Linked DNA regions of Homo sapiens. The protein of the gene in region 1 purifies or fractionates together with the protein of each later gene. This does not show direct contact. Each region holds a gene or a part of one and is shown in the gene's direction. Other genes may lie near its edges.

Region 1 (3,500 bases):
GTTCAGAGGATATGTTATCACAGTGGGATATAATGTTTTATTTTGGACTGCCTTTTTACCCAAGGTAGACATTTTATAGTGTTTGATAGGTTCTGTTTCTGTGATACAATGATGTTGGCCTTTTGTCAACTATAATTATAAGTTATTACATTTTGAAACTTTAATACTGCCTTTTATAAGCATTAGGTTGAAATTTTCCAGTTGGTGAGTGAAAAACACTGCATATTGCTTCAAGAATTTAGCTAAGAACTAAAGATTAATTGAACAAATTACAGTGTCCGAAGTTCGCTTGAATTTAGACAAGATGATGGAGCAGAAGAGTACTGCAGTAAAAGCTTTAACAGGTGGAATTGCCCACTTATTCAAACAGAATAAGGTCAGTGTTTAATATTCAGATTTCTGCTTTACTTTGAATACAAATTAAACTTTGCATTATAGAGTGATGATATTTGAACTTGGTTACAGGGGAATATTTATTTAATTTAAAATAGCTTGCTAACCTGAAATAGATTTCCCTGACATATATCACAGATTTTTTTGCTGCACCATGGTGTAGCATTACTAAGTAAGGAAGCATTTTGTTTTAGATAAATTATTTACAGAGTAATTTTTCCTTTGAATGATTTATCAAACAAATTACTTTAAACTTTGTGAATTTATAAAGATTATTTTGTAAAGGTTGTTCATGTCAATGGATATGGAAAGATAACTGGCAAAAATCAAGTCACTGCTACGAAAGCTGATGGCGGCACTCAGGTTATTGATACAAAGAACATTCTTATAGCCACGGGTTCAGAAGTTACTCCTTTTCCTGGAATCACGGTATTTATGCTTCATAATTTACAACCATTACAACTTTTCTTTAGAAATACGTTTTATAAGTTATTTATGCTATTTGTGAACTTTGAGAGATTTCTGACTGAAATACTATATTTTGATGGTCATTCAGCTTTGGGAAGTTACCTGTCTTTATTCTGCAGTGATTCTGACCAGCTATAGAACACTTTATATTAAGATATGTTTGAATACAGTATGAAGTTAAAATTGACCATTGCGTTTGGAATATTGGTGGATAAAATTTAAAGTCAGTGTTTTTAATGGGATTTGATGAAATTAGGTATATAGATACCTCAAAACAAATAAATGACTTAGTATTTTTAGTGATTCTACTGAGATCACAGTTTATAAATACATTTATCTCTTCATATCCTTGGAGGATTGGTTCCAGGACCCCCCTTGGATACCAAAACCCACAGATGCTCAAGTGCCTTACATAAAATGACATAGTATTTGCATATAATCTGCATACTTCCTCCTGTATACTTTAAGTCATCTCTGGATTACTTATAATACCTAATACACTGTAAATGCTATGCAAGTAGTTCCTATGCTGTATTGTTTAGGGAATAATGACAAAAAAACCATGTGTACATGTTCAGTACAGATGCAACCATCAATTTTTTTCCTGAATATTTTCAATTAATGGTTGGTTAAATCTGCAAATTTGGAACCCATGGATATGGAGGGTCGACTGTACTAGGTTTTTTCAAATTATTTTGATTATATCTTTTGTTTTTCTTACAGATAGATGAAGATACAATAGTGTCATCTACAGGTGCTTTATCTTTAAAAAAAGTTCCAGAAAAGATGGTTGTTATTGGTGCAGGAGTAATAGGTGTAGAATTGGTAAGTGTTGTCTTTCTGCCTCTTATTACCTCCTTGGAGTTGGAAGGGACTTAAAGGTCCCCTTTTTGATTTTTTGTATAACATTACAGGCTGATCAGCATTGAGTTTTGCTTAAACACTTCTAGTAATAAAGAGTTTACTTTTGTTTTTTTCAAGACAACCTATTTATGTATTTACTCATTTAGAATGTTCTCCTTTATTTTAGTCTGTTTCCTTGTACCTTCCACCCTTCCATTTCCTAGAACTGGTCGAATTCTTTTTTAATATGACAGCCATTCAGATATTTGAGGACAGCTTTTATCCTGGGCAAATTGCATTCCAAATAAAGATTATTCTCTTTACCATCACATACATGATTTGGCTCTTCCCTTCTCTATCCTCATCTTGATGCCTCTTAACTTAGGTTTTAGAAATGTCAAACTACTTGCATTTCTTTGAACACCATGTTATTTTAGACCTTCTGTCTGCCTTGTTCTCCCTTCTTGTCCATCTGGCAGCTTTCCACACATTTCCAATGACCTCCCTCCATTTTAGAGTCACTGTGCCTTGTAAACACCAGGAATTGCTCTACTTCTGAAATAATAAATTCAGATATTTTATTATGTAACCATGACCTCCTTTCCTCTTTTACTCAGTTATTCATAGTGTACTTTGTACCCTTTTTTAGGTTTTCTAGTCCATAGATCTACTTTTTTGCAATCTTCCCTTTCCAATCTTGACTGCGTTCCTGATCAGCTTAGATGCCATAGTCCATCACTTTAACCACACTCTTACAGATGTCCTTGAGTTGCTTGTCTCACTGTTCTGTCATATCTGCTTGGCAAAACTCTAGTTCGGTTTGAATGCAGCAGTCTGCCTTTTTTATGCTATTTCCAGGCTGTTGACTACACCTGGAGAAAAACACACCCTACTCATTGGTACTTGTATTAATTCTTGGCACAAACCTTAACAAGAACCTCAGCCTTGCTGACAGTTTATTATTTCCTAAGATGGTACACTGCCCTGGTCTCTGCAATGGCCATTTTCATTTTCTACTCTTCTCAAATCTCTGCTTGTATACTGTCTGCTCTGCCTGTGGATGACCTTGTCTTTTAAATATTACATAAAAGAGAAATCAGATGAGAACTCCCTCAAGTTGATGTCCTAAATTTGATAATGCTTTTACCTGTTGTTACACCTATCCTTTTGATTACCTCTCCTATTACTGTGGAAATGCCATTTTCCCTAAGACTAATCCCTTTACTTGTGCTTGGTAGCACATCATCTGCCTTTTCAGAGACTTGGTTTTGTGATTTTTATTCTTGTATTTTTCAGTCTTCAAACTCCTTCCTTTTATTTACAATTTCATGTGCTTCTATGTGTGTACCTGTGATGCATTTGCACTCATTAACACAGGTTTGTGTGCACATAAATGCTCCTTATCTTGGTCCCATGTCCTTCTTGAGTTACCAATTTTGTTCGCACTTTTCCTTCAAAACCCAGCTTCTCAAAAGAGTTGTCCATGCTTTATTTCATCAACTTCCACTCACTCAGTCTATGGCTTGTGCCAATAAATTGCTCTTAGGGCATGAATCTATTTATTGCTCAATCTGTTGGACTAATTTCTTCACTGCTTTATTTGGCAGTAATTAGCATTGCTGATTTTCTTGCCTTTGAAACACTTTGCCTAACTTCTGTGATTTCATATTCTTCCATTTTTACATCTGCTCTTTGGGCTGAATTCTCCATATTATGCAAGTTCCCCTTTCTTAGGCTTCCCTTTAATTGTTAGTATTTTTGTTTTTCTTTTTTTTTTTTTTTGAGTCCGAGTCTTG
Region 2 (3,942 bases), about 31 Mb from region 1:
CTCAACGCTTCAACCGGAAGCAGAAATTGACCGCGGCAGGCGCCATCTAACGGCCGCTGGAGCAAAGCTCCTCCTGGAAATTCGCAACACCGGAAAAGGTCCGGCTGCTTCCGGTAAAAACCCACCAGAGCTGACGTTCAGAGGGCGAGTCTCGAAGATCCGGCCAATTTGCCCAGCGCGCTGTGCTCCGCGACGGCGCATGCCCGCTTTTGCGCAGGCGCGGGGACTACGGCGCAGGCGCGGAGACTATTGCGCAGGCAAGCGCGTACGCAGAAGCGTGCGCGCGCCCGTTCAACGTCCGGAGCATCGGTGCAGTTTCGAGGGTAAAGCCTTTGGCGCGGTGATGTGGACTTTTGTTCTCTAACTACAACTCCCAGCATACGTCACCCCTCACGTGGGCGCTAGGTGTGGTTTCGTGGGATAGGGTAAGGCGAAAATGAAGTGACGATGACGTACCAAAGAGGAAAATAGTTGAATATGTTGTGTGAGCGCGTCGTTTGCAGAAGCCCCAGTGGCCTAATGGATAAGGCATTGGCCTCCTAAGCCAGGGATTGTGGGTTCGAGTCCCATCTGGGGTGGCCTGTGACTTTTGTCCTTTTTTCCCCTTTCTAAACAAAGCGAAATATGCCAACTTTACTTTTTTTTTTTTTAAATGGGAAGTGTGTGTGTGTTTTTACTAGCTGGTGGGCTGCAATTTTCGAGAATCTGCACACACCCATGTCCTTTGTCTGAGCCGCAGGTCCCCTGGGATTTGGGGAGACGTCAATACGTTGAATTTTGATATCCCTTTTATAAATCATTTAAAAATGTCTTCTCAGCGTGTTCCATATCAAATCCACACCCACACCCCCCGCCGGGCCCGCTTCTCCTGAGACTCAGCGGTTGGTCGGCTAACGGGCATCTTCAATGACGCAGTGAAGAAAAGCCCCTGTTTCCCCAAACCCTTGTTCTGGGTTAGAGGTCCTGGTACCTTCAGTTAACAGTCGGGTTTCGTTTGATTTTGTTACGGCGCCCCTGGGCCTTCGATTAATAAGGTTCGGTCAACGGACAAGTGAGCGGTTCCACTGCTCGTCAGTCGATAGGGGGAGTCGGTAGTCTGTCCGACCGTACCATTAGGCGCCTGGGCCGGAGGAGGGGTTTTCAGGGTCGTAGGACGCCGTTGGGCACCACGCTCGGAGAAGGACAGGACAATGGCGGCCTTAGGGTCCCCGTCGCACACTTTTCGAGGACTTCTGCGGGAGTTGCGCTACCTGAGCGCGGCCACCGGCCGACCCTATCGCGACACCGCGGCCTATCGGTACCTTGTGAAGGCTTTCCGTGCACATCGGGTACGGGAGCCATGTCCCGGGTGCTCTACGTGCTGGGGAGGGAGGAAGAGCCGGGTCTGGGCTAGGGTGGGGAGCACGGTGTTTAATTCCTGCATTTCTGAGGCCAACCCTCCCACGGAGCCCTGGTTCTGACCAAACCAACCCAGGCCCTAGGCTCCATGCTCTGGCATAAACTCGGGGACCAAAGGACCAGCGGGGGGGGGCGCAGAGTCGCTCTGGGGACGTCAGCCTGTCCTGCAGAGGGGCGGACCCGTCCCGAAGGATTTCATTGGCTGGTCTGTTGCCTCTGCGGAGGGCAGTCAGGAAAGTGGAATGGAGGATTCAATGCTGGGGATAAAACAATGAAGATGGAGTTGAAGGGTGTACTGTTGCTAGACTTAAAGCCACAGCATCTGGCCAACAATTTCCTCACCCGTCCCCTAGAAAAGTTATTCTAAGAAGCATTTCTTTTTGAGGCGGAAAAGAACAACTGGGCTTTAGGGAAGGAAACTTGCTGCCCTTGAGCAATGTGGGGAAAGGGAGAACGATCAACTGTCGAATTTCTGAGCCACGGACGTCAGAATGTAAAATCTTAGAACTCAAATTCACCTAGTTTTTAAAAGGTGGCAACGTTAGGGTCTGTGCTAGGAACCTGGTCTAAACAGGAAGAATCAGATGCACATGTGTCCTGTCCTTAAGACACTTGCTGCCCACCTAAGGAGCCATACAGTAAAGTACTGAGGATAAATAAGTGCTCAAGGTGTAGACAACAGGGGCTGGGGTATAAAGAAGGGGTAGTTAGGGAAGGTTTTCCGGAGGAAATTAATCAGGGACCTGAAGGCTAATTTGGAGTTAGCAAGTAAATTGGGGTTAGGGTCCAGGTTTAAAAGCTACACAATTGAAAGCCCAAGGGGAGAAAAATTGCCAGTTGAGAGTGGTTTAGCCCTAAGGTGTGGTGGGTGAAGTGGAGGTAGATGAAGTGGTAGGCCGAACAGGAACTTAAACTTTATTGTAAGTGTAATGGGAAGCCATTCTAAGATTGTGATCACCTCCCAGGTTCAAGCGATTCTCCTGCCTCAGCCTCCCGAGTAGTACAGGCAGGCGACATGCGACACCACGCCCGGCTAATTTTGTATTTTTAGTGGAGACGGGGTTTCTCCATGTTGGTCAGGCTGGTCTTGAACTCCTGACCTCAGGTGATCCGCCTGCCTCGGCCTCCCAAAGTGTTGTAATTACAGGCGTGAACTATCAAACCTGGCCCCATTCTAAGATTTTTAAGGAGGTGACATGATTATAGTTGTACCTTATGGGGATAACATTATTACCCTTGAGAGAGACTTGGTAATGGTTCTGAAATTCATGGTACATTCTGGAAATACCACTCTGGAATGCACTTGAGCATAGGGGAAATGGTTTCTGTTTCCTTCAGGCTCACAGCTAACTGAATAACCATCCCATTTTCTCTATCCTTTCCCTCCGGAGAAGGGATTCTATTAGGGAGAAACCTACCCTTTCTCCACAGGGAAAATACAGTGTTCTATTTCATTTGATCTCTTTTGGGTTCTTGTGATCTATTTACTGTTTCCTGTCTATTGCTGACCCTTTTGTCCTCATGATTCAGGCTCAACCGAATCAAGAGCAGTATTCTATCCTACATTAACCTAGAATTCCCATGTCAAATTCCACAAATTTGGGCTTATATATTAATAGAAGTGGATGCTATGATTTGTTAATGCTTGACATTGGTGTTGATTTCTCATAAAATTTAAATTACTAAAAAGTTAAATTTGTATTAAAGCAGATTAATTCTGTTTTTAAGCAGCTAATGAATGTTGCTTTCAACATGATCTGCAGATCCTAAAACCCACATTCTAACAGCATGGGCAACATAGTGTAGTGAGACTTCCTCTCCAAAAAATTTGAAAATTATCCAGGCGTGATGGCCCATCCTCTAGTTCCAGCTAATTGGGAAGCTGAGGTGAGAGGATCACTTGAGCCCAAGAAGTCGATCAAGGCTGCAGTGAGCCATGTTCATACCACTGCTCTCCAGCATAGGCCACGGAGCGAGACCCTGTCTCAAAAACCAAGAAGCCACACACATTCTAGTTTTCAGATTCTAACACTAGATATTCAAATAGAGAAAGGGGATTAGGCCAGGAGCGGTGGCTCACACCTGTAATCCCAGCACTCTGGGAGGAGGCGGCAGGTGGATCGCTTGTGCCCAGGAGTTCACGACCAGCCTGGGCAACATGGTGAAACCCTGTTTGTATAAAAAATACAAAAATTAGCCGGATATGGTGGTGTGCGTCTGTAGTCCCAGCTACTTGCGGGGCTGAGGCAGGAGGATCACTTGAGCTGGGGAGATCAGCAGCCATGTTCACGCTATTGCACTCCAGCCTGGGCAACAAAGTGAGACCCTGTCCCCAAAAAAAAAAAAAAAAAAAAGAGTTGGTGGGGGGCGTATTATGTAGGCAGTGGTGCCCAGATTTATCCACATTTGGACATGGCTCCTTTAGTCCCTCAGAGCTATGCACACATCCCCATCTCACCTTTCCTGCCCCTTTCTCACAGCCTTGAATACAGAACTAGTTAAAGAGGGTGCAGTGAATCTCAAAAGTTAAGTATGATGAAGAAA
Region 3 (4,186 bases), on another chromosome or scaffold:
CCTTTTTGAGCTGCTGTATCTCAGGTAATCAGCAATCACTTAGTGGATGATAATAATTTGCAAATTCCTCTGGAGCCTCTAAAGACCGTATCATGAATCATCAATTCAAATGCCTACAGGAGTCGGGCAGGTGATATGCAGGAGGAAATAGAGTCATTTAGGGCCCATAACAAAGGGGAGAGAGGCCGGGCGCGGAGGCTCACGCCTGTAATCCCAGCACTTTGGAAGGCCGAGGCGGGCCAATCATTTGAGGTCAGGAGCTCGAGACCAGCCAGCCCAACATGGCGAAACCCCGTCTCTACTAAAAACACAAAAAAATTAGCCAGGCGTGGTGATGCATGCCTGTAGTCCCAGCTACTCCGGAGGCTGAGGGAGGAGAATCACTTGAACCCGGGAGGCGGAGGTTACAATGAGCCGAGATCCGCGCCACTGCACTTCAGCGTGGGCGACAGCGAGACTCCGTCTCAAAAAACAAAACAAAAACAAAGGAGAGAGTACATAAGCCATCTCCAGGCTAGTTTCTTTAACTAGTCTTCATATAATAATCTCCTCAAGGTCCTGTTCTATCCCTACAAAATACAAAACAGTTCCTCGTGTCTTCCTTCAAATATACTACAGTCTTTAGCTCATCAGAGTAGCTGAGTTAGTCCAAGGCATAATCCCAAAAGCGAAACTGAATGTCAGAATTGATCTCATTTCAACACTCATTCCAGAAGTAGAAACTTCTGCAAGTTCAGCTTTTGACTATGAATTCTTCAGCGCGACTTTTGCAGAGAGCTCTGTTCCAAGAAGCTGGCGCCTTAACACAAGCTATCTACCGATGCACAAGGGAAGGCTGGCTTGGGTCCAGATTCGGCGGGAGAGTGGAAACGCGACGCTGGCCGACTTCAGCCACAAAGGCAATTTCTGCCCAGGGCTAGCGTTCCTAAGAGGGGGCCGAGAGAACGCCAGGCTCGGGCGTAGGGGCAAGAAGACCCAGAGCTAACGCACCTCTCGGAGGGCCCAAGCTCAGGGCTCAGTCACCCTCCCAGCTCGGAGCCGGCGCTGGAACACAGCGGCGCGAGGAGAAACCCCTAGAGACAGGGAAAAGGTGGACGTAGCGGCTGACGCTGCCCAGACGCTAGGCGCCGACAGGAGCCTGATTGTCACCGTACGACCAGTGAGGGGGCGGGGCGGAGCTGTGCCTCAAAGCGCCTGCGCGGAGAGCCTGCAATCAGGGACCAGGCTTGGGAGGCGACGAAGAGGAACGCTGGGCGCAGGAGGCCCACTGCATACGCAGGCGCACTCGGCGATCCCGGCTTTTCCGCGCGCAGTTCCCGCACAGGCATCGGGGGGGGCAGGGGCGGGGCAGGGGCGGGGATAAATGCGGAGGGACGGTCCAGCTTTAGCTCTCTGCTCGCCGCCGCCGCTGTCGCCGCCACCTCCTCTGATCTACGAAAGTCATGTTACCCAACACCGGGTAAGGGGGTAGGGGCGGCGCGGGGAGAGACCCTGTCGGGCGAAGGGCGCGTCTCGGTGGGGCCGCCGCGGATCGCCCGGGCTGGCCGGCCCGGCTGTGGGAGGTCAAGGATACTGCCTGGGCACGCTCTGAGCTCTGGTCCGCGCTGGGCACTGTGCACCGAGAATCTGCGGTAACGTGTGAAAAGGAACACAAACTTTTGTATTACAGGATGGCAGCAGTGTAGAAACCTTTTCCACGGGTAAAGGGCCGAGGGGGAGTCACCACGCCGCCCCCAGTGCCGGCCCTCCCTGAGTTTAGCAGGAGTGCGTGCCTGGCCGAATGCGTGTGAGTTCTAGGTGAAAGGTCGCAGGAGCAGCTCCAGAGTTTAAAGAGTTTTCACTTGTTCCTGACGCTCAATTCTAGAGTAATAATGGAGTGTTTAAAAAATGATTTCCAAATTAGAAACTAAACCGATCTTAAAACATGGGTATCTTTGGGGGATTTTTTTTTCACCTTAAAAAATTGTGTTAAAATACGTACAAAATCTGCCATCTTAACCGTTTTTTAAGTGTACACTTCAGTAGTGTTAAGTAGATTCATATCGTTGTGCAGTCAATCTCCAGAACTTTTTTCATCTGCAAGCTGAAACTCTATCCATGAAACAACTCCTCTTCCCCACCTCCGCTCGTACATTGGCAACCACCATTCTACTTTCTGGTTTATGTAAGGTCTGGGTATCTTGAGTTGAGTGACGTGTTGTCAGATTTTGTAATTTGCCTGAAACATGCAGGCATATAGCCAAAGACTTAAAACAGTTCAAAGAGTATAGGGTAAAAAGTGAGTCTCCCCATCCCTAAAATCTAGTTCCCCAGTTACTTACGTTTCTATTTCGTGCATGTATGAACATAATTTGTATACATCCGGATACACACACACACACACACACACACACACATACCCTTTCTTAAAAATAGCAGCAGACTCTATTCTTGGTCTTGCTACTTTTAGTTGGTATGTCTTGGGACATTCTTTCTTTGTTTTTTTTAAAGACGGGGTCTCCCATGTTGCCCAGACTGGCCTGTAGCCTTGAACTCCCAGGCTGATGTTCCTCCCTTCTTAGCCTCTGGAGTATTTAGGATTACAGGCATGCACCGCTGTGCCCAGGGACATACATTTTTAGTACATGGCAGATCTTCCGCCTCCTTTTTTTTTCTTTTGAGATGGAGTCTCGCTCTGTCTTCCAGTCTGGAGTGCAGTGGCATGATCTCGGCTCACTGCAGCCTCCGCCTCCCGCAATTCTCCTGCCTCAGCCTCCCGAGTAGCTGGGACTTCAGGCGCGTGCCACCACGCCCTGTTGATTTTTTTGTATTTTTAGTACAGACGGGGTTTCACCATGTTAGCCAGGATGGTCTCAATCTCATGACCTCGTGATCCGTCTGCCTCGGCCTCCCAAAGTGCTGGGATTACAGGCGTAAGCCACTGCGCCTGGCCCCTCCTCCTTTTTAATGGTTGCATAATATTCTGTAACAGCTTGAGTATCCATTATCCAAAATGCTTGGTTCCAGACGTGTTCGGATTTCAGATTTTCAGATTTGGTTTGCTCAACCTGTATATGAATATACCTTTGTTTATTTAACCTGTTCCCTATTGTTGGATACTAGACTGTTTCCAGTTTTTTGGATACTCTTTTTTTGCTTCCATAATTATACTTGTATTTATCTATTTGCACATATATAAGTGTATATGTAGGATAAACTCCTGGAAGTGAAATTGCTGGATCAAAGAGTAAATGTGGCTGGGCACAGTGGCTCACGCCTGTAGTCCCAGCACTTTGGGAGGCCGAGGCGGGCGGATCACTGGAGGTCAAGAGTTCGAGACCAGCCTGGCCAACGTGGTGAAACTCCGTCTCCACTAAAACTACAAAATTACAAAAATTACAAATACAAAAATTAGCTGGACCTGGTAGCGGGCACCTGTAATCCCAGCTACTCAGGAGGCTGAGGCAGGAGAACCGCTTGAACCTGGAGGCGGAGGTGGCAGTGAGCCGAGATCATGCCACTGCCCTGCCCTCCACCCTGCGAGAGAGAGTGAGAGTCTGTCTCAAAAAGAAAAAAGAGGAAATGCACTTTATATTTTGACAGATATTTCCAGATGACCCCCCAGAAGGGTTGCACACCCAAAAGGATAAATGAGATCCTCTAATCCCACTTGTTGGCTAACCGCAAAATAGTTAATGATGAAAATCTAATTAGAGAAAAAAGTGTCACCTCATTATTGTTAAAATTTGCATTTATTTTATCACAAGTGTGGATTTGGATCTCTTTGTGTATTTAAACCAGGGACAATTTGATCCCCAGAGGACATTTGGTAATATCTCAAGACATTTTTGATAGTCACAATTGAATGGAGATGCTAATGGCATCTCGTGAGTAGAGTACAGGGATGCTGGTGCACATCCTACAATTCACAAGCATTCCGTACAACAAAGAATTATGTAGTCCAAAAGGTCAGTAGTGCAGAGGTTGAGAAACCCTGGTTTAAAGCCATCTATGTATCTTTATATTTGTCTGGCTTAACAAATGAGGTTTTTCGTTAATCTCTGAGGGCTCTGTGTATTTTAAAAATTTGTCTTTTATCACATTACAAATATTTTCCACAGTTTTTCATGTTGCATCTGGACTTTGATTATACTGTTTATTTAACATGGAGAAACATGTTTTTGTGAAGCCAGAGTTATCAGTCTCT
Region 4 (2,850 bases), on another chromosome or scaffold:
GGTGATGTCAAAGGTATATGATACTTGAGGAAATCAGGCCAAGTGTAGCTGAGCAATTAATAAACACTCAAGTTTTTTTAGTTGGGGTCATGTCAAACCCTCACATGGTGGTTAAGTAGTGACTAACTGTGCATGTCCTTCATGGTAGGTGAGCACCAGTCTCCATGATCAAAAATGCCCCAGTTTCCTTTGAAAAAGCCACTAGTTCTGTGAATTGTCCTTTTCCCTCCTGCCCCTAACAGTCCTACCCCTCTAGCCTACATTAGCATATTTCTCATGTAATGTATTTTGCTGGTAAGCTCATCCATTAGCTGCGTCCTTCAGCTATTCCTTTAGATTGGAGGAAGTGGATATGAAGATGGATTGATTCAGCTCACCTTCCATGATTGCTTTTGAGGGAAAAGCTACAGTGGCCACATTTCAGATGTTCACTTTTGCAATTTGTGGAGGGTGGAGAGAGGTAGACTTTTGTTGTGTGTTTTATAAAGTACTCTCAGTAAGGAGTGTTTGAGTTGAAGAGTCATCTGATTCGAGGCCACTCATGTTCTTTGTAACTTAAACTTTGACCAAGAAATTCTTCACTTCTCACTTCTTCACTTCTTCCCAATATACAGTAAGTACGTGAGCCAGTCATCCATACACTAAGGCCTAGTTGAGAAAAACCTTTGATTCAGGATGGCTGGGTTACTAACCTTGAAATGTAAGAGATCTGGTTTTGAATGTAAAAGTTGCAACACACAAACGGAAGTCTTAAAAACTTTTTGCTCTGGTCAGTTACAGGTGGATCCCCAATAATCTGTTTTTGGTTTTCTGATGGAAATAATAGAATTAGGGGAAATCAAATCTGGTTGGTAGGTGTCTACAGTATTAGAAGAGGGTATAAGGGCACTGTTTAACACTAAGTTCTAATACTTCCAGAAACTGTGCATTCCAGATCTACATACTAAATGCTCTTATCATTTTGAAATGGGCTCTTGATTAATAGACCCATATTTTTTAGTGGCTTCTATGTTGTATATTTGTCTAAAATGAAAGCTCTTTTGCGTTCTAAAACTACAATATATGTCATCTTATTTTCCCTGAGTATCCAAGTATAGTGCAGATTCTATGTAAAACTACTAAATGACACTGGAATATGTTTAGTAGATTAGGGGGAAAAACTATAAAGGTTTATACAATTGTTTGTAGTTACATTTAGGATGGACTTATCCCTTTGGAGAAGAGTGAAGTTTGTTTTTTCGCCATGTGATGAAGACCACTGTGATTTTTTAAAAAAGTAGATAATACTTAAAATGGCGTAATAATTCTGCACTTGAATTTGTACTGTTAACAGCACATTTGGAAGATTTTAAAACTTTTTATTGTCTTATAAATAGCATTCACTTATTATTTTGGATATTTAAGGGTTCCATTAAGTTAACACTGTATTTGGACAAAGTGTGACCAAATTAGCCAGTCTGTTTTCTTCCATGTTTAATTAGAAGTGAGAGGTAGAAGTACTTCAAATTCAACAGGCCAGCAAGCAATCGGCTTAAAATTCCCTTTCTTAAATGTTGTGCTCTTATGTTCTCGGCTTTTTAATGACTTTATTTTTACAGTACTTGTTCAGTCACTTGAGATGAAATGCTTGGGGTAGCTTTTCCATCCTCAAACTTAATGTTTTTACTAGTTCATAGTGTTTGGAACAGTATATGCCAATCACTGAGACTGCATCAGAGTTTGCAATTTTGTATGTTTCATTGCCAAAGAAGGCTTAGTGGTTGTTGACTGTAGTATAAGTCAGCTTTCTGTAGCATAAGATTTGATTTTCCCATACTTACTTCACTTGTTATACATCACTGATTATTTGGGTTAAACTGGACTCATTTCAAGCAGTTTGCTTTTGTTCAAATCGTGATGAGAAACCTAATACTGTAATTTGATTTGAGCCATAAAACACATTTTAATATTAGCTTGTATTATAGTTATTAAGCTTGTTTTTGTGGAAAAAAACTTACTAAAACCTAGGTAACTCTAGATTAGGCCAGTTCAGGTGTATTTTGTATCTTAGTAATGGATCATATCGTAAAAATAGAGATAAGTTGGGAAGATATATTGATTATGCTGTTCTGTTGAGGGAAAGGTCATGTATTTAGAAATTTAAACTTTTGGTTATTGTGTTCACATCATAGTATTCAAGCATCATTTATAGTTTGGTTTTGAGAACTTTTCTGGTATTACGTTTATGGCAAATGTATAAAAGAAACAAGTTTTGGTTATATTTTTATATTTGTAAAGTAAGTTTGGTTAAAGTGATCACTGTTCTTTTTTTATTTTATTGTCATTTCAATAAAAAATATTTGAAAGAGAATGACTCTGTGATTGTTTTGGGATAGTAGTCCTGTATGTGTGGCTGCTGATCCTACTGTGCTAGTAGAAATCTTGCATGGTTCGTCACTGTGAGTGGCCGAGGGCCTTTAGGTAAGAGACAGCTTAGCATAATAGCAAGGGCCTGATGGCCTGGGTCACTGATGTTGCCCTCTCCTTGTGCCCCACACACTCCCTCCTCCCATTGTGTGTTAGCAGTGTTTCAGTTTCCTGAGGTGTGAAAGGGTCACTAGATTTGGAACATGAAGGCCACAAGTTAGAAGTTGCTACACAGTTGTGTTAACTGTGTGTAGTCCATATCATTGGGGACTGAGTCCGAGTTTCCTCATCTGTAAAGGGAGGGTTGACTCCTTTAGTTTTTTTTCTCAAACTTGCCTGGAATTCATAATGTTCTATGACACACACCATACCTGCTGCATATGTAATACTGTGTAATTCAATGTTATCTTAAATAGAAAGTTTACCCAAAATACGGGAATATAT
Region 5 (3,500 bases), on another chromosome or scaffold:
TAAGTTCTATGCTAGATCCTTGGCTTAAGTTACCTTATTTAAACTTCATTAGAACCTTGTTATTCAGGGAGTTGAACAAGACCTCAACACCAAGCCTGTTGGATCCCACTGTACCATTCGGCCTCCTTTGTTTTACACTGTTCACAAAGGAACCGTATGTCACTGGGGGATTCAAAGTCCTTGTACATTGTGGAGTAATCTGCTATGTACTTTATTTAATGAACCCATTGCCTCCTACTAAGTATAGATCAACTTCTTTGTTTTGATTGTTAACATTTTGAACATTGCAGATCAGTGACCTAGGTGGTGGTGTCCCACTTCGAAAAATAGATCGTCTTTTTAACTACATGTATTCTACTGCTCCTAGACCCAGCCTGGAGCCTACCAGAGCTGCCCCTTTGGTAAGCATCTGAAAGTGCTGCTGAAGGAAAGATCATAAACACAGGAAGGGGCTCAGAGGGAGCTGCCTCTCTCCCCAGGTTGTCACATTAGTGTAGTTGATTTAGAAGGTTGCGTGTATTATGGTTTGGAGGAGGGAGAATTTTTTGCCTTGGCTACTTGCTTTGTGAATCCTTTGGACTTCAATTTCCTCTCTGATTTGTGTCTAAGAAACACTCCTAGCTGAGTGCCTCATTCCCATATACAGAGAAAAAGTACCTCATTGTGGTAAGACTGCTACTGTAGCACCATTTTCCACTTTGTGCTACCCTTGGAAGGGGTGGAAGTTGCCAGTGGGTGAGCAAAGGGACAGTACTGAATGCATAGCTGCCGCTTGGTCCTGCGCACTCTGGCGTGCGTACCACAGAGGCGCGAATCACCTAGTGCCTTGGAATCTCCACTGTCAAATTTGTTTATATAATTAAAATGTTAAATTATGAAAACATTAAATTTTTATGTTAAATAACATTAGCATGAAACATATAGGTGGTGTATGCATTTTCAGAGCCCTTTCTGTCTCACTCTGGAAATAACCTTCAGCCCTGTTAAGGCAGTGAGAAAAGCCACTGGTTACCATGGTAGCATTTAGATCCTGGTAGGGCCACACTTGCTTCCCCTGCTGAGTGTTTCTAATTGACAAACAACAATTGAACCCTTTGTCATTAAACACAGCAACATATCTATCAGTCTGCAAAATGGTTCAGGGTATAAATTAAGTTTCATTTTAAAGTCGTACCTGACTGATAAGCACATAAGATTATATTTTATTTGTATGAATAAAATCAAACACTTTGCATCATTTATTTGAGACAGAGTTTGTTAACTCAGCATGTTGGAAACAGGAAATCATTTATATAGGAGTCGAGAAAATTCATGAAAGATCACATTTGAGAGGCGTTGCCTTGACTAGGCTCTGGCATGCACTTAAATACACATCAAAAGGAAAAAAGGCACCACAAACAAATCTAGCACCTTCCCCAGTTGTTTAAAAGAAATATAGATTGTCTCTTCCAGGTCTTAAAATAGCATCTTGAGGATAGCTGTTATATCATAGGTTTTTTTTCTTATTGAAACTGAGGGCTTGTAAGAGACTTTTAACAGTTAACGCATGCGCACTCCCATTGTATAGATGAGGAAATGAGGAAATGACCTTGTCCAAAGTCATTGAACTAATTAACTGCAGAGCTGGTGCTGGCCATGTCTGTGTTCTTTCCAGTGTACTACGTGGCCGAAGAAATGCTTCTGCTAGTGGCTCTCCCAGTTAGGAAACTGGCCTGTAATCCTAGCACTTTGGGAGGCCAAGGCGGGTGGATCACTTAAGGTCAGGAGTTCGAGACCAGCCTGGCCAACATGGTGAAACCCTGTCTCTACTAAAAATACACGAAAATAGTCGGGAGCAGTGGCGCATGCTTGTAATCCCAGCTATTCAGGAGGCTGAGGCACAAGAATGGCTTGAACCTGGGAGGTGGAGATTGCAGTGAGCCTATATCATGCCACTGCACTCCAGCCTGGGCGACAGAGCGAGGCTCTGCCTCAAAAAAAAAAAAAAAAAGAAAAGAAAAAGAAACTGTCCTCAGCTTTAAAGTGGGCACATGGATATGTACTACTAGAAAACATAATTTCCTCATTGAGCAACTTACACTTTTACACCTTTTACACCTCTGTGCCTTTACATGTGCATTTCTGTTTGAGAATATCCACCCAGCGAACTCCTGCTGATCCTTTGACACTCTGGGAAACCTTTCCTGAACCTCAGCAAATCCGAGGTCCAGACCCCTCCTCTGCATTCTTTGGGAGTCTGGGCTTACACTCACATCTGCATTGGCCTCGGAGTTCTCGGCTCTTCTGTGTTGGACATGAGGGCAGGCTCTGGGCCTTGCTTGAACATAGAAGGCAGATTTGCTCACATCTCTTCCTAGAGTGAGCTAGTTTCTTTGCTGTGGTTACCTGAGTCACTACTATAAATATCTCATCTTCACTACTGGCCATATTCAGCAAGTCCCAAAGCCCTTAAATAATGGGGTACGTTCTTTTACCCCCTGCCCTTTCAGTTAAACCCTACCCTGAGGGAAGGTATCAAGGAGAGATGTTAGAAAATGGCAGAAATCTGTGTAACTTCATAAAATTGCTGCTCCTAGTAGCCATAGTACCAGCCTCAATTTATTTAGTTTTACTGTGTTAGGCACTGTGCCAAGATTTTATACTTGTTATATTATTTAATCCTTATAGCAGCTCTGAGGTCAGTTTTTTATCATATGTTCAGATGAAAACATGGTCTCAAAGAGGTTGAGTAAACTGCTCAGAGTCGCACAGAAAGTGGATTTCAACTGGGTCTGTCTGAGTCTAAGGCCCATGTGACTCTGTGCACATGGTCCCCTGCCCTCCTTCCTTAACCTTGTTCATAGATTTAACCAGAAGTGAGGAAGCTTGGTGTTACATCTCCTTCCCCACCCTGCCCCACTACCACCACAAATGGTATTACATTTAGTTTTGATTCTTACTGTTCTTGTCCATAGAACACCTGTTATTGACAGTCAGGATTCCTTGACATAGAGATATAGGAGGGTACTGAAAATTTTTTTAATCTCTAAAAATACCTGAACTACAATATACCAAAATATTCTCACATTCCCGGAACCTTAGTAGTTGCCTCTCAGAAAATTGTTTTCCTTTCCATGTTCTCGTCTTGTTACTGGTAGATTTGTACTCAGCACTGCGCTATTGATTTTCACTTGCAAAAGCAAGGAAATCTGATCATGGGACTTTGAAATGATGTGGTTTAGTTTTGTCATCAGGTCACATTCCACTTGATTTGGAATGTGCTTTTGTGTGTGTGTGTGTGTGTGTGTGTGTGTGTGTGGAGATGGAGTCTTGCTCTGTCGCCCAGGCTGGAGTGCAGTGGCGCCATCTCAGCTCACTGCAACCTCCACCTCCTGGGTTCAGGCGATTCTCCTGCCTCAGCCTCCTGAGTAGCTGGGACTACAGTCTCCCACCACCTCGCCCAGCTAATTTTTGTAGTAGAGATGGGGTTTCGCCATGTTGGCCAGGCTGATCATGAATTC
Region 6 (3,500 bases), on another chromosome or scaffold:
TTCCACTTCTGTTTTCCTTGCATGGCTTATGAATTAACTTGGGGTTTGGGCTGGCAAACCTGCTCCTTCTTAGAGCACAGATGTCATTATCTCTCTGGAAGTATGGCCTTCTTGGAAACTTTGTGGTTCCCATACATATAACAAGACAAGCGTGAAAAAAAAAAAGACTTTAAGTGTGGTTTTACTTCGTTTCTTGTTTACTTTATTATCTTTTCTTTTTTATGGCTTTTTTTTTGAGACCGAGTCTCACTCTGTCACTCAGGCTGGAGTGCAGTGGCGAAATCTCAGCTCACTGCAACCTCTGCCTCCTGGGTTCAAGTGATTCTCCTGCCTCAGCCTCCCGAGTAGCTGGGACTACAGGCACGTGCCACCACGCCCAGCTAATTTTTGTATTTTTAGTAGAGACAGGGTTTCACCATGTTGGCCAGCCTGGTCTCAAACTCCTGACCTCAAGTGATCCTCCCACCTCAGCCTCCCAAAGTGCTGAGATTACAGGCATGAGCCACTATACCTAGCCTATTTTTTTTTTTTGCTTGTTTATTTGAAAATGAAAGTCTTTGGTATTAAGGCACATAACACAAATTATCAGTGTGGTTCGTTCTTTTTCTACCCTGTCTCCCAGTTTTTGGTAACACAACAAGTATCTTTTAGAGGTTTGGGCTGTGGTCATGTTTCTTCTGTGAGTATTCATTTAAATATGAACCTTTAACTACAGGAGATCATGAAACCTGGATTTCAGAATCAGTCTTCAAATTCCACAGAAATAGATAAATATATAAGGCAATCAAATATTCTATGTTTGTAAATGCCACGTTATCCTATGCATTTTAATTTTTCACAGGCCAGAAACTTGTAGTGAATAAATTGGGAGTAGGCAGAATTGGATTTCATTATGATATGGCCGGCCCTCCCTCCCTTCCTTCCTTCCTTCCTTTTTTCCTTCCTTCCTTCCTTTTTTCCTTCCTTCCTTCCTTTTTCCTTCCTTCCTTCCTTCCTTCCTTCCTTCCTTCCTTCCTTCCTTCCTTCTTCTTTCTCTCTCTTTCTTTCAAGATGGGTTCTCAATCTTTTGTCCAGGCAGGAGTGCAATGGTGCAATCATAGCTCACTGTAGGCTCAAATGCCTAGGCTCAAGCAATCTTCCTGTCTCAGCCTCCCAAGTAGCTGGGCCTACAGGTGCATGCCATCATACCTGGCTGATTTATTTTATTTTATTTTGTGGAGACATGATCTTGCTGGGTTGGCCAAGCTGGTTTCAAATTCCTAGCTTCAAGCAACCCTCCTGCCTTGGCCTCCCAAAGTGTAGATATTACAGGTGTGAACCACTGCACCTGGCCTGATAGGGTGTTTCTAAATAGAAATCTTGAAATCATTAGCCAGACATTCTGTTTACCTTTCACATAATTTATAATACTCTATTTTAATCCTTCATTTTTACCCAGTACATTGAGCTGATCTTAAGATTGTGGTGGCGGGCGCCTGTAGTCCCAGCTACTCGGGAGGCTGAGGCAGGAGAATGGCGTGAACCCCGGAGGCGGAGCTTGCAGTGAGCCGAGATTGCGCCACCGCACTCCCGCCTGGGCAACAGAGCGAGACTCCGTCTCAAAAAAAAACAAAAAAAGATTGACTTCTGAAATAAAAGGTGAAAAGGCCATTTTCTTTAAAATGATGATAAATGAGGCTGGTCGCTGTGGCTCATGCCTGTAATCCCAGCACTTTGGGAGGCCAAGGAGGGTGGATCACCTGAGGTCAGAAGTTTGAGACCAGCCTGACCAACATGGTGAAACCCCGCCTCTACTAAAAATACAAAAAATTAGCCGGGTGTGGTGGTGCATGCCTATAATCCCAGCTACTAGGGAAGCTGAGGCAGGAGAATCACTTGAACCCGGGAGGCAGAGGATGCAGTGAGCTGAGATCGTGCCATTTCACTCCAGCCTGGGCGAAAGAGCAAGACTCTGTCTCAAAAAAAAAAAAAAAAAAAGTTATTCCAACCTGAAAACCTAGATTTCTTAATCCCTTATGTTTCTTTTCTCCCCACCCGCTCCCCTTGCCTCATGATTTAGGTCCATGGTGATGCTTCTTTCTGTGGTCAAGGGATTGTTCCTGAAACATTCACGCTGTCCAATCTCCCACATTTCAGAATTGGTGGGAGTGTGCATTTGATTGTTAATAACCAGCTGGGTTACACCACTCCAGCTGAAAGAGGAAGGTCTTCTTTATACTGCAGTGATATTGGTACGTAACACAGGGAGGAACTGATATTGCTGAAGCCGACATGGAATTCCTAGGGAAACCTCTGGTGCACACAGAACAATGAGCCTCACTGGTTATCCCTCCTTTCATTTAATTAATTAATTAATTAATTAATTTTTTGAGATGGAGTCTTGCTCTGTCACCCAGCCTGTAGTGCAGCAGCACGATCTTGGCTCACTGCAACTTCTGCCTCCCGAGTTCAAGTGATTCTCTTGCCTCAGCCTCCTGATTAGCTGGGACCACATGCGTGCACCACCATGTCTGGCTAATTTTTTTTTTTTTTTTTTTTAGATGGAGTCTTGCTCTGTTGCCCTTTCCAGCTTGTACTCCATGCTGGAGTACGTGATCTCGGCTTACTGCAACCTCCGCCTTTCAGGTTCAAGTGATTCTCATGCCTCAGCCTCCCAAGTAGTTGGGACTACAGGTGTACACCACCACACCTGTCTAATTTTTGTATTTTTAGTAGAGACGGGGTTTCACCATGTTGGCAGGCTGGTCTTGAACTCCTGACCTCTGGTGATCTGCCTGCTTAGGCCTCCCAAAGTGCTGGGATTAAAGGCGTGAGCCACCATGCCCAGCCTATCAGTGTGATTTTTAAATCCAAAGAAATAAGACAAGGATGGAGCCACAGTGTGCCATCTCAAATTTCTTATAACTGGATGGGTGATCTGGTACAAGTCAGAGATCAACACAATGAGTACAACACCAGAGTTGTTATCTCTAGGATATTCAAACTTGGAGTGCCCAGGGGCTTAGTGATAAGGGATGTGTTCAACCACTAAACTTGGTGAAATAGTATAGTTAGAAATAAGATGTGAAGGCTGGGCACAGTGGCTCACGTCTGTAATCCCAGCACTTTGGGAGGCTAAGGCAGGTGGATCATCTGAGCTTGGGAGTTCGAGACCAGCCTGACCAACATAGAGAAACCCCGTCTCTAATAAAAACACAAAATTAGCTGGGCATGGTGGTGCATGCCTGTAATCCCAGCTACTCGGGAGGCTGAGACAGGAGAATCACTTGAACCTGGGAGGCGGAGGTTGCAGTGAGCCAAGATCAGGCCATTGCACTACAGCGTGGGCAACAAGAGCGAAACTCCATCTCAAAGGGCAAAAAAAAGAAATAAGATGTGAAGAATCAAAGTCAGCTTCTTTTTTATCTGTGGAAATTGGTAGGTTTTTTTGTTGTTGTTGTTGTTTTGAGAGTCTTGCTCTGTTACTCAGACTGGAGTGCAGTGGTACAATCATGGCTCAC
Region 7 (3,500 bases), on another chromosome or scaffold:
CCTGAGTAGGAGGGCAGTGAAAGAACAAGCTAGTGGTTCTTAGCGCGTGGTCCTGGGACCAGCTTCGTTGTCTGGAAATGTGCTAGAAATGTGGTTATTGGGCCCTGCCCCATGCTGAGTAACTGCCTTTGGGTGATTCTGAAACATGCTCGCGTTTGAGAACCACTGGACTAATAGAACACTCCCCAGTGCTTCCTGCAGCCTGGTTGCCATGGCCTCCAGCTCACCAGTTGGGGCCAGATGTGCACATGCATCCCCTCGGACTCCCTCAAACTCGTAAAACACTTGGGTTTGGTGTATGGGTCACTCTCTTCCGGGTTCTACAGTATGGCAGCCATGGCACCCATGAAGGTGTTACTTTCCCTTATAATTGTTGAAGTCGATGGGCGATTCTGCCCAACCTTAGGAGAAGACATCAGAGAGGCTCGTTGTTGCCTGTAGCTCAAGCATGTCCCAGTCCCTGCTCTTGCACCCACCTCCAGGATTTTGGTTTGGGACAGACTATAACCTAACAGGAACTCAGTGACCAGGTTCCAGTTTCCCAGTTGGAAGGCTTCGCAGGCAGTTCAAATTTCAAGATGGGAGCCTTCCCTTTACAATGTCACCCACTGTCTCCAGTGGGCTTGATGAAATGTCACATAGTGAATTGTAGCAATGACTTATTTTGGATGGACACCCGCTAAAAGTTTCCAATAACCGAATTTCACTCTAAAAGAGGAAAGAAACAATATTCAAGGTCCATTCATTCAATACATCTTTTTTTTTTTTCTGTTCAACATGGGGTGGTCCTTTGAAATGGCACCTCCCCTAAGTAATAAGGAAAACCAAGTATATTCCCTAAAGTGTTGAAGTTAGCAGAAAAATCACCCAGAAAAGCCCAAAACAATGACAAGAGTACAGAAACAGGCATAGTGTAGGTTCATGCTTGAGATGGATTAGTGGTTTATTCCATCCCGTTCTATCCTTTCCCGTATCTCCTGTCCCCACTTGTTAAGACCAGTAAGACTCATGAAGCAGCAGCTATATTTCATGGCACCATTTTGGGTCATGAAATTCCATCTTGGTCACCAAGCCTGACTGTGGTGGTAGATACTGTTACTTTAATGTTCCAAACCCTGCCTAGAAACCTGTTCCTGTCCCATGATCCCAGCCTCACCACCCCCACTTGAAACAGCCCTTCCTACTGGTATCCTGTCCTCTTCCCTCTTGGCTTTTTTCCTGCTCCCAGCGGAACCCAGTCAGGGGATTCTATAGGAGAAGAGGGAGCCCAACAGAATACTAACTTCAGTGGAGCTGACTCTGCTTATACAATAGGGGTGGGCTGCACAGAGTGGAAACCGAGTACCTGGTAGAATGTGCATTTCCATGGCCCACTGTAGGCGCCTCTCTTAGAGCAAACAGTATTTTAGGTGTGCTCTTTATTGAACACAGGACCACAGTGTGTCACTGAATCTTCTTAAACAGAAGCAATTAGAACGATTTAGATATAGGGAGGGCACAAGTAATAAGTAACCCAGGGGATAGACCAAGAAGCAGCTCTCTGGAAGAGTCTGGAATTAAAAAGACGGCTGTACTAGAACAGTAGCCACTGCCTGCTCCAGAACTAGGGGGGAGATATTTGAGCTGGAGCCACCAGAGAACATTTCTATTGAGAAGTTTTTATTTGTTTGTTCTGTTGGTTTTTTGTTATTTCTGTTTTCTTCTAATCTTTCTCTGAAGTATCACTCTGGTATTGAGAAATTTTTATTTCATTAGCTAACCTGGGCTTGGTGGTTAAGGCTAGTACTTGTACTTAGAATGATTCTCTGTCAGGAAAAGTCTTGGCTTTAGAGTTTGTTATAGTTGGGGATATAACAATTACTGTGATCGAAGAGAAAAAATAGCACCTTTGGTTGTAGATAGATGTAGTTTTCCTCACAGCCCTCACGTCCCTTCATGTAAAAGGGATTTTAACAGGATTTACAGAGGGAATGGCTCTCAGTTCCCACACTGTGACATGTGTTTGAGGAATTTTGCCTTTAAGCATTTTTCTTGCACATGGCTGAAACACCCCTGGCTCTCTTGTTATTTGAGTGGTTGCATGATTCTTTGGATATTTGGAAGTACAAAGGGGTAAATGGATGCCAGGGGTTTTTTGTTGTTGTTGCTTATTAGGTAGGATATGAAGAGTTCTCACTGTTGGGAATGGTATGTGTTTTGACATTCTTTTTTTTTTTTTTTTTTTTTTTGAGACAGAGTCTCGCTCTGTCGCCCAGGCTGGAGTGCAGTGGGGCGATCTTGGCTCACTGCAAGCTCCGCCTCCTGGGTTCACGTCATTCTCCTGTCTCAGCCTCCTGAGTAGCTGGGACTACAGACGCTCGCCACCACGCCCGGCTAATTTTTTGTATTTTTTTTTTTTTTTTTTTTTTTTTAGCAGAAACGGGTTTTCACCGTGTTGGCCAGGGTGGTCTCGATCTCCTGACTCGTGATCCGCCCGCCTCGGCCTCCCAAAGTGCTGGGATTACAGGTGAGAGCCACCGCACCCGGCCTGTTTTGACATTCTTAATGATCTTAATAATTTGGCATCTGAAAGTCTGAAACAGTGTCAGTATTGTTAGTCAAAAAGAACAAGTTCTTCAACCACTTGCGTAGTACCCCAAATTATATTCAAGTCCCTGTGACTCCAATGCTTGGAGAAGTCATTGATATGATTTGATTAATGTTATAACTTTGAATTTCCTAACTTTCTCAGCGGCATAGATTCTAAGCCACTTCCATGTGCTTTCAGATGGCATCTTAATAGATTGGTGTTGAGGTTATTTTAATGTCCATAAACAAGAAAGGTCTGGGAACAATCTGTATGATTTTTCTTTCACATTTTCTTATCTTTGCCACTGGAGGTTAACTGTCGTCCAGATATGCATATGAATTGTGAAATGCAAAGAAGCAAACATTTGGGGGTAGGGGAGTAAGTGCTGTAGTTCTTTTGTTCACTTATTTTAATACTATAGAAGTGTATTTCATTTTATAAAAAGCAAGAATCATAAAAACCCTCTGTATTTTGATTTATGAAGAATATAGCTTCTCTCTGAAGTATCTCAAGATATATCTTGGGGACCACAATGGGATCACAGTGTAATTGTTTGCTGTTGGTGTCATGTTTGGATTTTAGCATGGTTTGTTATGCATGTCAGTGGCCTCTGATTTCAGAAAGAGCTTGGCGAGGGCAGAACACATAAGGGAAGGAAACCTCTGCTCAAGAGAGTGGCCTGGGATCACAGTGTCGTCATTCCCAATTTCCTTGAATTCCTTCTTGGCAGACCTTACTGTAATATTACACAAAACTGTAATGAGTGGCCCTCCTTTGGAGGTAACAGATGCCTTTCCTAAGAACTCAAAGTTCTCTTTTCAGCGTGCTGTGACTTGAATATGGAAATCATTTTAATTTCTTCTTTTCTCTTATGGGGAAATTTCCATGCTTGGTTTGTCAAGACAAGAGAATTCATTCCTTATTATTGAAA

Evidence for each region.
Region 2: the proteins of DLD (region 1) and FMC1 purify together in Homo sapiens (affinity purification with mass spectrometry, with the first as the bait; 3 studies listed by BioGRID). This does not show direct contact.
Region 3: the proteins of DLD (region 1) and HSDL2 purify together in Homo sapiens (affinity purification with mass spectrometry; 2 studies listed by BioGRID, with this or other methods). This does not show direct contact.
Region 4: the proteins of DLD (region 1) and NUDT21 purify together in Homo sapiens (affinity purification with mass spectrometry; 2 studies listed by BioGRID, with this or other methods). This does not show direct contact.
Region 5: the proteins of DLD (region 1) and PDK3 purify together in Homo sapiens (affinity purification with mass spectrometry; 3 studies listed by BioGRID and IntAct, with this or other methods). This does not show direct contact.
Region 6: the proteins of DLD (region 1) and DHTKD1 purify together in Homo sapiens (affinity purification with mass spectrometry; 2 studies listed by BioGRID, with this or other methods). This does not show direct contact.
Region 7: the proteins of DLD (region 1) and SLX4IP purify together in Homo sapiens (affinity purification with mass spectrometry; 3 studies listed by BioGRID and IntAct, with this or other methods). This does not show direct contact.

The regions. Positions count from the first base shown.
Region 1 is NC_000007.14:107,904,683-107,908,182, forward strand, and holds part of DLD (dihydrolipoyl dehydrogenase, mitochondrial isoform 1 precursor), read left to right. Parts: intron 1-275; coding exon 276-376; intron 377-678; coding exon 679-822; intron 823-1,584; coding exon 1,585-1,686; intron 1,687-3,500. UniProt on the Homo sapiens protein: Lipoamide dehydrogenase is a component of the glycine cleavage system as well as an E3 component of three alpha-ketoacid dehydrogenase complexes (pyruvate-, alpha-ketoglutarate-, and branched-chain amino acid-dehydrogenase complex).
Region 2 is NC_000007.14:139,340,195-139,344,136, forward strand, and holds the start of FMC1 (protein FMC1 homolog), read left to right. Parts: upstream 1-1,142; 5' UTR 1,143-1,190; coding exon 1,191-1,328; intron 1,329-3,942. Other genes in the region: FMC1-LUC7L2 readthrough protein, read left to right, coding at 1,191-1,328. UniProt on the Homo sapiens protein: Plays a role in the assembly/stability of the mitochondrial membrane ATP synthase (F(1)F(0) ATP synthase or Complex V).
Region 3 is NC_000009.12:112,378,722-112,382,907, forward strand, and holds the start of HSDL2 (hydroxysteroid dehydrogenase-like protein 2), read left to right. Parts: upstream 1-1,386; 5' UTR 1,387-1,442; coding exon 1,443-1,459; intron 1,460-4,186. UniProt on the Homo sapiens protein: Has apparently no steroid dehydrogenase activity. Controls bile acid (BA) and lipid metabolism in response to nutritional cues.
Region 4 is NC_000016.10:56,428,633-56,431,482, reverse strand, and holds the end of NUDT21 (cleavage and polyadenylation specificity factor subunit 5), read left to right. Parts: 3' UTR 1-2,350; downstream 2,351-2,850. UniProt on the Homo sapiens protein: Component of the cleavage factor Im (CFIm) complex that functions as an activator of the pre-mRNA 3'-end cleavage and polyadenylation processing required for the maturation of pre-mRNA into functional mRNAs.
Region 5 is NC_000023.11:24,527,786-24,531,285, forward strand, and holds part of PDK3 (pyruvate dehydrogenase kinase, isozyme 3 isoform 2 precursor), read left to right. Parts: intron 1-290; coding exon 291-401; intron 402-3,500. UniProt on the Homo sapiens protein: Inhibits pyruvate dehydrogenase activity by phosphorylation of the E1 subunit PDHA1, and thereby regulates glucose metabolism and aerobic respiration. Can also phosphorylate PDHA2.
Region 6 is NC_000010.11:12,089,454-12,092,953, forward strand, and holds part of DHTKD1 (2-oxoadipate dehydrogenase complex component E1), read left to right. Parts: intron 1-2,059; coding exon 2,060-2,231; intron 2,232-3,500. UniProt on the Homo sapiens protein: 2-oxoadipate dehydrogenase (E1a) component of the 2-oxoadipate dehydrogenase complex (OADHC). Participates in the first step, rate limiting for the overall conversion of 2-oxoadipate (alpha-ketoadipate) to glutaryl-CoA and CO(2) catalyzed by the whole OADHC.
Region 7 is NC_000020.11:10,623,805-10,627,304, forward strand, and holds part of SLX4IP (protein SLX4IP), read left to right. Parts: 3' UTR 1-3,500.